Linked DNA regions of Homo sapiens. The protein of the gene in region 1 purifies or fractionates together with the protein of each later gene. This does not show direct contact. Each region holds a gene or a part of one and is shown in the gene's direction. Other genes may lie near its edges. The genes, in order: ROS1, HS3ST6 and NTPCR.

Evidence for each region.
Region 2: the proteins of ROS1 (region 1) and HS3ST6 purify together in Homo sapiens (affinity purification with mass spectrometry; one large-scale study listed by BioGRID and IntAct). This does not show direct contact.
Region 3: the proteins of ROS1 (region 1) and NTPCR purify together in Homo sapiens (affinity purification with mass spectrometry; one large-scale study listed by BioGRID and IntAct). This does not show direct contact.

The regions. Positions count from the first base shown.
Region 1 is NC_000006.12:117,419,374-117,423,024, reverse strand, and holds part of ROS1 (proto-oncogene tyrosine-protein kinase ROS isoform 3 precursor), read left to right. Parts: intron 1-3,651. UniProt on the Homo sapiens protein: Receptor tyrosine kinase (RTK) that plays a role in epithelial cell differentiation and regionalization of the proximal epididymal epithelium. NELL2 is an endogenous ligand for ROS1.
Region 2 is NC_000016.10:1,916,308-1,920,058, reverse strand, and holds the start of HS3ST6 (heparan sulfate glucosamine 3-O-sulfotransferase 6), read left to right. Parts: upstream 1-1,643; 5' UTR 1,644-1,735; coding exon 1,736-2,148; intron 2,149-2,580; exon of another isoform or gene 2,581-2,692; intron 2,693-3,751. UniProt on the Homo sapiens protein: Sulfotransferase that utilizes 3'-phospho-5'-adenylyl sulfate (PAPS) to catalyze the transfer of a sulfo group to heparan sulfate.
Region 3 is NC_000001.11:232,953,505-232,957,155, forward strand, and holds part of NTPCR (cancer-related nucleoside-triphosphatase), read left to right. Parts: intron 1-2,052; coding exon 2,053-2,215; intron 2,216-2,842; coding exon 2,843-2,939; coding exon of another isoform or gene 2,940-2,943; intron 2,944-3,651. UniProt on the Homo sapiens protein: Has nucleotide phosphatase activity towards ATP, GTP, CTP, TTP and UTP. Hydrolyzes nucleoside diphosphates with lower efficiency.

The DNA.
Region 1 (3,651 bases):
AATTAACAAATCACAACAACTGAGGAACTAATATTGAGAAGGGCTCAGGAGTATCAATTCCATTCAATAAATTTCATTCAATATCAATTTATTGAATGGATTCCATTCAATAAATTTTCCTAGGTATCTATGTATATTCAGCTCTGTGGTGGATGCAATTCGGAATACAAAAGAAGTGAATTATGTAATCAATGCCCTAAAGTAAGTTATCAAATACTGAGATATCAAGGTTTCTATCACTAGACAGTTAAAGGCTGTTACAAACATGATGTGCTTTTATAATATTAGAGGGTGATGACAATACATTTATTTTTGATTTGTATCTTAAGTTCCAAAGAAATAAACTGAAAATCAACTGAAAGACTATTAGAAATAATAGGATTTGGAAGATTTTTAAAAAATTAATGTACAGACATGAAAAATTGTCTTGTATATCAATATATAACATTAAAACAAAATAATATAATAAGATCATAATTCAGAAATTTTATAAAATATTTACAAATTAGCATAGTTTTTATTGCTACAGGAATAAACCTGTGAGTAAAACAGAATACAATCAAGAAATAAAACCATGTACATAAAGAATGTGAAATATGATAAAGATGACAATTCAAACCAATGAGTTGCTATCCATGTAGCATAAAAAATTCCTACATAACTGCCAGATTCAAATAAATTTCAGGATATATTTTGTAAAAAGGTATGACTTTTGGTTAAGTGCGATGGCTCATGCCTGTAATTCCAGCACTATGGGAGGCTGAGGCGGACAGTTCCCTTCAGCCCAGGAGTTTGAGACCAGCCTGGGCAACATGGTGAGACTCCTGTCTCTACAACAAATACAAAAATTAGCTAGGCGTGGTGGCATGCACCTGTAGTCCCAGCTACTTAGGAGGCTGAGGTGGGAGGATTGATTGAGCAGGGAGGTCGAGGATGCTGTCAGCTGTGATTACACCACTGTGCTCCAGCCTGGGTGACTCTGTTTCTAAGAAACAAAAACAGAAAGGTTTACTTAAATGCAAACAGACAAATAAACAAAACAAAGCAAGTGTTTACTTCATAAAAATATTAGAAGAAATTGGGGTGACTGTTTCTGTAATCTTGAAGTAGAAATGCCTTAAGAAGCCTAATTAAAAAATTTAGACTCCCTAAAAAGAAATTATCAATAAATTTGACTACTTAGAAACTTAAACTGTTATGACAACAGTATACAATAACTGCAAAGCCAAAAAGTGGAAAAAAAGTATTACACATGATAAATAATGTTTTTAAAGAAAAAATCCCTGATACACATAAAAGCATGTAAGATGAATTTAGAATATAAACAGCCACTTCAAAAAAGAAGTATAAGTGTCCATCAACTGATGAGTGGATAAAAAAATGTGATATATATACACCATGGAATACTACTCAGCCATAAAAAGGAATGAAATAATGTCTTTGCAGCAACTTGGATGGAGCTGGAGGCCATTATTCTATGGAGGCCATTATTTGGCCAGGAATAGAAAACCAAATACCGTATGTTCTCACTTATAAGTGGTAGCTAAGCTATGGGTACACAAAAGCATGCAGAGTGGTATAATGGACTTTGGAGACTCAGAAGGGGGAGGGAAGGAGAGGAGTGAGGGATGAAAAACTACATGTTGGGTACAATGTATACTACTTGGGTGAAAGGTGCACTAAGATCTCAGACTTCACCACTATATAATTTATCCATGTAACCAAAAACCACTTGTACCCCAAAAGGTATTGGAAATATATATATATTTCCTATATATATATATATTGCAATATAATATATATAATTCCAATATAATATGTATTCCAATTCATATATTCCAATATAATATATAATATATATTATAAAAATGGCTAAAAAGCATGTGATAGATATTCAACCTCACAGCAACCACAGAATTGCAGAATAAAAATAAATTATCAATTTTTCTTCTATCAAATTGGCAAAGATAAAAACATTTATAGTTGGGAAAAGGTACAGGTAAACTTCTATTTTCATGAATTGTTGGTTGGATGTAAATGGATAAATTTCTAGAAAAGAATGCGTTATTAAATCTCAAAATTGAAAGAGAAAATATACCTCTAATTTATGCATCAAATTTATCTGAGGATATTATTGTTTAACTAACCAAAGATATGTATGCAAAAGGCTGTTAACAGCAAGTTGGGACATAATACTACTAATACATTTCTAAGTGCCTGCACTGCACTATAATAATTATTGCATTTAATTGAATCTTCACAGAAGCTTATGAATTAAGTATTATCCTACTTATGTCCCGGATACGACCACTAAGTTTAGATGGCACAGGTAACTTTGAGAATATCACATTGGGAGCAAATATCATGTGGAATTAAAATACAGATCATTCTGCTCTGTTCCATTTATTATTATTATTATTATTATTATTTAAAATTTTATTATTATTATACTTTAAGTTTTAGGGTACATGTGCACAATGTTCAGTTTTGTTACATATGTATACTTGTGCCATGTTGGTGTGCTGCACCCATTAACTCGTCATTTAGCATTAGGTATATCTCCTAATGCTATCCCTCCCCCCTCCCCCCACCCCACAACATTTATTAGGGTAGGAAGTAAAGAATGAGATTAGTTCTGCCTGAGGTGGGCAGAATAGAAAAGCTTATGTCAAGAAGTGGGTATTAGGTTAAGAAAGTTTGAGATCTGGGACTGAATTTGACTACTGGAAGCAGATAATTGGCGTAGTTGGAGCTAAGGCAAACCAGCGGGGATCCTAATGTTCAAAATGAAAAATGTGATTTTGGTGGAGATTATGGAAGGCATCCGGTTAAGAGCACAGGTTCTGGAGTCAATCACTCTGCCCCCTTCAAATCCTAATCCAGGTAATTTACTAAACTTCCCTGTGCCCCAGCTGTAAAATGAGGTTAATTATAGCAGCTACCTTATAGGGTTGCTGAGATGATTCAATGAGATTTAGTGTAAAACACCTATAAGAGTGCCTGAAACATAGCAATAATTCAATAAATGTTAGCTATTGTAATTGTGAGGAGAAGAATGGGGAATGAGTGGAGATTAGGGAAGAGTGTTGACAAAATCTGCCTCATTAGAAACCCTTAGACCTGACTGTGAGGCTACCCTGCCCAAGACCATTTGATGGTCATTTCACTCAGCCCGTTAAATTTACTCCTGAGAAGAGCCATCAGGACTCACTACCGTTACAGTGTGACTATGATCATCAAGAAATATCTCTGCTCTCCTACTGTTTAAAATGGAACACAAAGACTACCCAGCATCCACCCTTTTGCTTTTATGAGTTAACATGCATTTTTGAAGGGGTAGGAAAAGATTCAATTTTCAACTCATTATCTCTCACCTGATTTTTATTTGCTTGCGATTCAACCAACTTTTGAACAAAATCATGAAAACACAGTACTATTAAGCACTCGGTTGCAAAATTCATCTAACAGATAGAATTCTTACTGTCTAAATGTTTATTATCTAAAAACAAAAGCCAATAATCATCCTTCTTCTTTTCCTACAAATATAACCGGTTAGGGAACGGAGTTTAAAGGAATCCTCACTCATGCTTCAAATTAAAGAAAAAAACAGGCAACATTTGTTCTTTGGTTCTTGAGTCTGATTACTTTTCA
Region 2 (3,751 bases), on another chromosome or scaffold:
GTGGGGACTCCTGAGACCGTGAGGACTCCTGAGACCGTGGGGACTGCTGAGACTGTGGGGTGGATGCTGCAGGGTGGGACCCCAGCCCCCACCCCGAGCCAGCCCGTTGGGAACAATACCGTTTCAAGCTAGACCAGAAGAAGAATTTCCTGTGACCCAGCATAAGCCAGCATGCTCTCCTCGCATTGTGCCCGCTGCCTGCCCACGGGGCTCCTGCAGAGGCTTGCCCAGATGAGCAGGTGCAGCCCGCATGTCTGGAGCCGGGGCTGGGGGACTGGTCAGTGGTCTTCACCCCGTCAGCCCCGTGTGGCCCCCTCTGGCCAGGGCTGCTGCTGGGTAGGAGCTCCGGAATGTCTGTGGGTCGTGGAGGCCTTCGGCCCCTTGAGGCAGCCCGGCTGCTGGGACTTGTCCAGATGCCATCAGGGCTGGAACGGCTCATTAACGCAGCAGAGCCCAGGACAGGGGCCGCAAGCCCTTGGCTGGGAAGAGGCTGGGCCTCTGCCGGGAGCCTGTGCCGTGCCTGCCTGGCGCCAGCCCTGTGGCCAGGAAGGCTGGGGCAGAGGTGGAGAGAGGACCCGGGTCTCATACCACCTTTGCCTTCGGATGGGGCAAGTTGCTCGCCCTCTCTGAGCCCGGCTCGCCTCCCCTGCCTTCCCTGCAGGCTGCTGCTGGGCGTTGGGGATGTGAAGTTCCCGCAGTGTCTAGCGGCCCCCGCAGGTCCCACCCGAGAGGCCCCTGAATCTCACGCCCCTCAGAGGCAGCCCCTGGGGGAGGTCCTGGGCTCCTTCTCTTCCCCAGCACAGGGGTCCCTGAGTCCTTTGTACTCCAGTGGGGTCCACTTTGCCAGCTTCCGAAATGCATCACTGATGTCTCTGGGCAGTGCCAGGTGGACCAAGGCTGGGCAGATGGGGTGACTTAGTAGACAGAGTATGTCTCAGGCCTGAATTCAGTTCACCACTGGGCCCCTGGGAGGGAAACCTATTTTCTCTGAGCCTGTCCCCTCCATTCTAAAACAGTAACCAGAGGTGACTTGACCTCTCAGCGGCCAGGCTGTGACCCGATGTGTGACTGTCAGCTGGGAGTGCAGGACGCACGCCATTCCCGGCCGCAGACTCCCCCCACACGTTCTGGGATCCCTCTCTGCACACTAGGGTGCTGTCCCGGCCTCTTTCTCCCTTGGCAGGCCGAGTGCCCGGATCGACGCTTTTCCTGGGTCCCCTTGGCCTGGCGATGAGGCTCCCGCTCCTGCAGGCCAAGGCTTGGCCTATGCACCTGCCGCGCACGTCCCGGAGTGGGGTGGGGGGGGAAGGGGATCGGTCTTCAAACAGAGGGTCCCGAGGCCCGCGCGCCGCCCTGTCCCTGCCCTGCGTCCCGAACGGCCACCGCCGCCGCATCCTCCCCGCGCAGAGGTGAAGATGCCGGAGTCAAGCGAGCCAGGGCCTGGGATCTCGGAGCAGGAGCGTCCTGGTGGTCCCGGCAGCTCGAGTCGCGCCCGGGTGGTGGCGGCTGCCGGCGGGTCCAGCCCAGGCAGTGGCCTCGGAGGCGGAGTGGGCGGGGGAGGGGGAGGGGGGAGGGCGTCCAGACCCCGCCCCCGGTCCCGCCCCGCGCCCGCTCCCAGGCTGCGGGACCGCCGGGCGCAGAGCACAAGCCGGGCACCCACGGACTGAGCGGCGCGCGGGCCGAGATGCGCGCCCGCCTGCTGCCCCCGCTCCCGGGCCTGGAGCGGCGCGACCCCATGGCAGGTAGCGGCGGCCTGGGCGGCGGGGCCGGGGGCGGCCAGGGCGCAGGGGCCGGGCAAGGGGCCGCTCTGCGGGCGTCCCGCGCGCCGATGCTGCTCGTGGCCCTGGTGCTCGGCGCCTACTGCCTCTGCGCCCTCCCCGGCCGCTGCCCGCCGGCCGCCCGCGCCCCCGCGCCGGCCCCCGCGCCCTCCGAGCCGTCCAGCTCCGTCCACCGCCCGGGAGCACCCGGCCTGCCTTTGGCCAGCGGTCCCGGCCGCCGGCGCTTCCCGCAAGCGCTCATCGTTGGCGTGAAGAAGGGCGGCACGCGCGCCCTGCTGGAGTTTCTGCGGCTGCACCCCGACGTCCGCGCGCTGGGCTCTGAGCCCCACTTCTTCGACAGGTGCTACGAGCGCGGCCTCGCCTGGTACCGGTGAGCACCCTGGCCCGTCCGCCCTGACCGGCGCCTTCCTGGGGAGGGTATCGTGCGCCCCAGGGAGCAGCGGCACGATATCCTGCCTCCCAGGGAGCAGGGGTGCGCTCCGGGCAGTGGGGTTGGGACCGCCCTGTGGGGGCCCCAGGCTTGACCTGGGGTCCCGGCTCCGGAAGAAGGAATGATACTTGGCTAGGATTCCCTGAAACTTTGAAAACTGTGGGGAAAGCCCCGGTTCCGTTCTCTCTGCTGAGGGACCCAGCAGGACTGGGGGAGGCGGTGGCTTCCCAGCCCAGAGGTCGTTTCCAGCCCGTGGGATTACCTGGCAGCGTCAGAAATGCCTCTGCCGCCCGCTCACTCTGGGCACTCAGGTGTGACCGACCGCTGGCCAGGTACTGTAGAAAGGGGCCTCCAGGTTCCAGGCAGCCACCTAGAAAGCGTCCTTCCTCCCCAAGACCCCCGAGTCTGCGCACAGGAACCCTTGTTGGTGGTCCTGGGAGTCCGGAGAAAGTCTGGGCTTTGGAAAGGAGGAGACTGCCTTTAGGTGAGTGCCCAGGGTGAGTCCAGCCCCGTGCATGGGGCTCTGTGGCTGTCCTGCCTCTACCCAGGATGGACGTGGGGGTGCGGCAGCCTCAGCTGAAGCAGCCCGCGCTGGTGGCTGCTCATCCCCAAGCTTGGACCCAGCGCCTGCAGAGAGGACCCTGCCCAAGGCCAGTTGGGGAGTCAGTGGGGGTGGCAGGACCCAGACGCTTCTCCAGGTGCTCCAGTTTCTCCGTTCCCGATCCTCTGATCCTCTTCCTTCCCTGACGCCTACCCCTATTTGTTAACTTTGCCTTTTGTACTAAAACTACTCTTGGGTTTGGAGGGCAGGCAGGAAGGGGCTCCGTGAGAATAGGGTGGCTCGCTTCTGAGATCTGAAGGGCTGGTGCCAGTGTGGGGTGCTGGGGAAGTCAGGTGGTGGCTAGGGGACATGGAGTCCATCCCGGGGCTCACCTGGCTGAATTGGGCATCCTCAGCTCAGGCTCCAGGGAGAGACCTCACTCCCCTGACGGCAGGCAGGGGTCAGAATGCATCCCTAATCCCTGCTGCAGGGAGGAGGGTAGGAGGGGCTACCAAGCTAGAAGCTGGGGAGGAGGGGAGTGGCGAGACGGGGGAGGAGGGGAGAGGCGGGAGGGGGAAGGGGAGAAAGGGCTTTGGGTTAAGGATGCACAGTTAACTGGAGTAAACACTTCAGAGCCACCCCTGAGCCCCATGAGCTTTGACAGCAAGAGACTGGGGGTGGGATCTGAGCTGGGCCGTGAGGAGCCACAGGGGAAGCTAGGGTTGGGTTTAGCCCTAAAGGGTTCTGGAAGAGCCCAGGCTCCTGAGGCCAGTCCAGGCCCGCCCTGGGCATGTGTCCAGCGCTGGGGGATCAGTTTGGGGAGGATGAGAGGCAGCCAAGGCCAGGCCCAACTTGGGAGTCAGCTCCTTAGCCTGGGGGTGGGGTTCCGGGGACACTGACGTGCCCAGGGTTGGAGGGGGGTACAGGAGAGTGACTGCTCTGGTAGATTCTTGACGTCCTCATTTTTTAGAAGGGGGAGGGGTGGGTGTGGAGAATTCCAAG
Region 3 (3,651 bases), on another chromosome or scaffold:
CCCTTTGTGAACAGGAATAGTTACCGTTGCTCCATTTTATCTTTTTCAAAATATAAACGGCAATTTTTGTTAGGATAAGAGTAAGACCCATTCAGTATAAGAATTAAAAAAAACAAGAAAAGTTTAAGGAAGAAAGTGACAATCACAGGGAATTTGAACATCAGAAATCAACATTGTAAATCTTTGTTCTGTATTCTTCTTGACATTTTTTTTTTCTGTAGACACGTACTTGACCATTCTTTAAAAAAAACATAATGGAATGGTTTCTGCTATTAACCTGCTTTTTCCATATATTATTTTCATACATTGTGGTCTATTTTCCATGCTAATAAATACATATAAGCAGTATATTTTTTAATGGTTGCATGGTATTTCTGTGTATTTATGTGCTATTATATACATGGTGCCATGAGTTAACATTCCCTTACAATCAACATTTAGGTTGTTTTCAGTGTTTTGCTATTATAAAGAATGTTGCAGTGAATGTCCTCTTTCACACATTTGTATTGTTGATGTTTCCTGAGGATGAATTCCTAGTCATGAACTACAGGGTGCTGTGGCAGGCGCATTGAAATTGCCCTTCAGAAAAGAAGTAGCAGCTTACACATTCGGCAATGCCATTACTTGCATGAAACAGATTCTTTAGTGACTTTCCTAAAGCAGTTGTTACTGATGGCCAGGGCTGGATTAGAATGTCATCATTTTATGTTCTACACAGTTCTACCAGCTGCATGCTCACTGTGGCTTACTGTAGCCAGAATCCTGTTGTGTTGCTGTTCATGTTCCAGAAAGCCAGGTGCCATTATTTTAATGTGAAGTGTGAAGATAGATACATTAAATAAGAATAATGGATCATATTTTATGTCAAGGAGGCTTAAAAGAGTGGGTAGTCTTAGAAATAGCATGATTTGCAACTCTGTAGTATCTCAAAATAGCTCACTTGCAGACATGCTAGGAGTTTTCTCTCTCTTTCCATTGTTGGGTAGTCATGATGCCACTTACTTAAATCCATATTGGGAACAAGGCTCATATTTTAAAAAGTCATGGTGACAGGTAAAGTCCCCTGTTGAAAGGTATGGACCTTATGAGGGGTATAGCCTTGGGTAAAATACCTAACCACCATGTACCTCAGTTTCTCCATCTGTAAAATATGCATAAGGATGGTAATTGCCTCAGAGGATGGTTGTGAGGACTTAACCAAGAAAATGCTTCCAAAGTGTGCTAGAACAGTGTCTGGCTCCATGACGTCAGTGATGAGTATTACTATATTAGGTAGCACCTGTTGGTGCTTACAAACCAGTGAGTTCATCAGAGTAGTCAGCTGACCAGGCTGGATGGACAGGAAGGATCAAGGTGGGGAGGCTGAGGGGGCAGAGGTACATAGGTTCAAACTGGGGAAGGTGTGGGGGATAAAGGTGAAGAAATGCTTAGAGACCCTGGAGAAGATGATGTTGGAAGGAGTTGCTAACCTGATAGGCTTGCTGTTATGAAAAAGTTTGAAAGTGACCATTAACAGGGATGCTAATGATATTTAAGAGACACATTTTCAGGAGTTACAACAATGTAAGTCAAAGGAGGAACAAAGTGATTTTCCCACTGTTAAGTGTAGGTCCGTTTGTAATCTCTTGAAAGCTGAAATCTTAAATTCCCAGCCCCTGACTCAAGTGTGACCAGTGTTACTTCCTGGGCAGAAAAATGGGAACTGTAAACCATTTCACAGGATGCAAATGGCATGGGAGAATATCATCAGGAACCTCTCAGTTGATTCTGGGATTGTGTACGTGACAAAATTAACAATGTTTCACAATTTAAAAATAAACCTCAAGATATCATTCGTGTTTTTATTATGCTTGTTTCTACTTGAAATTAAGCATTTTTAGCACCTGGAGCAATCAAAATTAAATTGAAGTTCATATTCATAAATCCATTTACAGCCCATTTCTCTACCCACCATAATTGCTGCCTCAGAGTCCACAAGTGCTGTGTGTGCTCTAGTAAGGGAATGTTTCCTAATGGGCTTTTCTTCTTTTTTTTTTTTTTTTTTTATTTTAGGAGTTGGAAAAACAACATTGATCCATAAAGCCAGTGAGGTTTTAAAATCCTCTGGTGTGCCTGTTGATGGATTTTATACCGAAGAAGTCAGACAGGGAGGGAGAAGAATAGGATTCGATGTCGTCACGTTGTCCGGCACCCGGGGGCCTTTATCGAGAGTTGGGTACTGATATTTCATTTCTGTGGTGTTCTATTATCTAAGCTCCCCTTCCATCTGTGCTTTGGGAGCTTTTCAACAAGAGCTAAATTCACCAAAAGCAGATACTCTGTTGGGTCCTTGGATGCCCATCTGCTTTCCCTTTAGGTTGAGAGTGTCTCCCTGGGCACAGGGTTGAGCCAAATGTTGTCATCTATCCTCAAGAATCTTAGGCCTTTAGGGATTTCTCAGAGAAAGAAAACAGAATGAAACCATCACATGAAAAAAGTATAAGAAAGTGATATTTTACTTAAAACTTGTTCACCAAGTCATAAACTCCTCTCACTTTATAATTCTTAGTCCTGTTTCTGGTGCCACTTTTCAAAGACTGTTGATGCAGTAGCTGCTTGGACCTTAAGAGATAGCCCTGCCATAACTGCAAGGCCCATTGTTGGAGGTGTGGACACTTTGAACAGGGTAGCTCTGTTCAAAGCAGAGAAAACCTGATCAGCTTTACAGACCACCGCATTTTGTGTTGGTCATTTTTAAGGATGATTTAGCATATGTGGAATGCCAGAGGCTCAGTGGAGCAGCTAAAAACCAGAAATCAATACAGGAGTTTTTCAACAAAGAACATAATGTCTTTTCCTTCAGGTTAGAGCCTCCACCTGGAAAACGTGAATGCCGAGTTGGGCAGTATGTGGTCGACCTGACTTCTTTTGAGCAGTTGGCACTACCCGTCTTGAGGAATGTGAGTACGTGATTTCTGCTTTTTGAACCCATCTGCTCTTAGTGTATTGTGGGAATTGCTAGCCATGGAAACAGAATGCCTTTTGCTCTTAAAGGCCCCAGTTTTGCATTTTACAATTGAAAAGATTGAGTCTTAATAAGGATAAACAACATAATTTGCTATCACTCTGAGCTACAGATAAATTCCTATAAATTCAGTACATATAAATATTTTATTTTGGAAAGGCTCTTGATGCCCAGGTACCAACATTCCCAAAGATAAGTCTTTCCTCTGTCTTCTCACAGTCATGTCTTAACCTGGTTTCACAGCACAACAAACATTTAGGAAGAGAAAATGTCATTATATGAACATAATAGCCAGTTGTTATTGAATGCCTACCAAGTACTGTAAGCAGTTAACGTATTATATTATTATATTACCTTTTTTAAAAAAGAAAAAAACTTTATTGACATCTTACGGCTTCTTTCTTTCTACTTTGAATGCCTTTTATTTCATTTGCTTGCCTAATTACCCTGGCTAGAACCTCCAGTCCAACATTGAATAAAAGTGGTGAGAGTAGACATCCTTATCTTATTCCTAATCTTAGAAAGAAAGTATTTAGTCTTTCACCATTATGTATGATGTTAACTGTGTCTTATTTGTATAGAGTTTACTCAGGCGTATTTTGTTGAGGATTTCTGCATCTTTATTCACAAAAGATATGGTCTGTAGC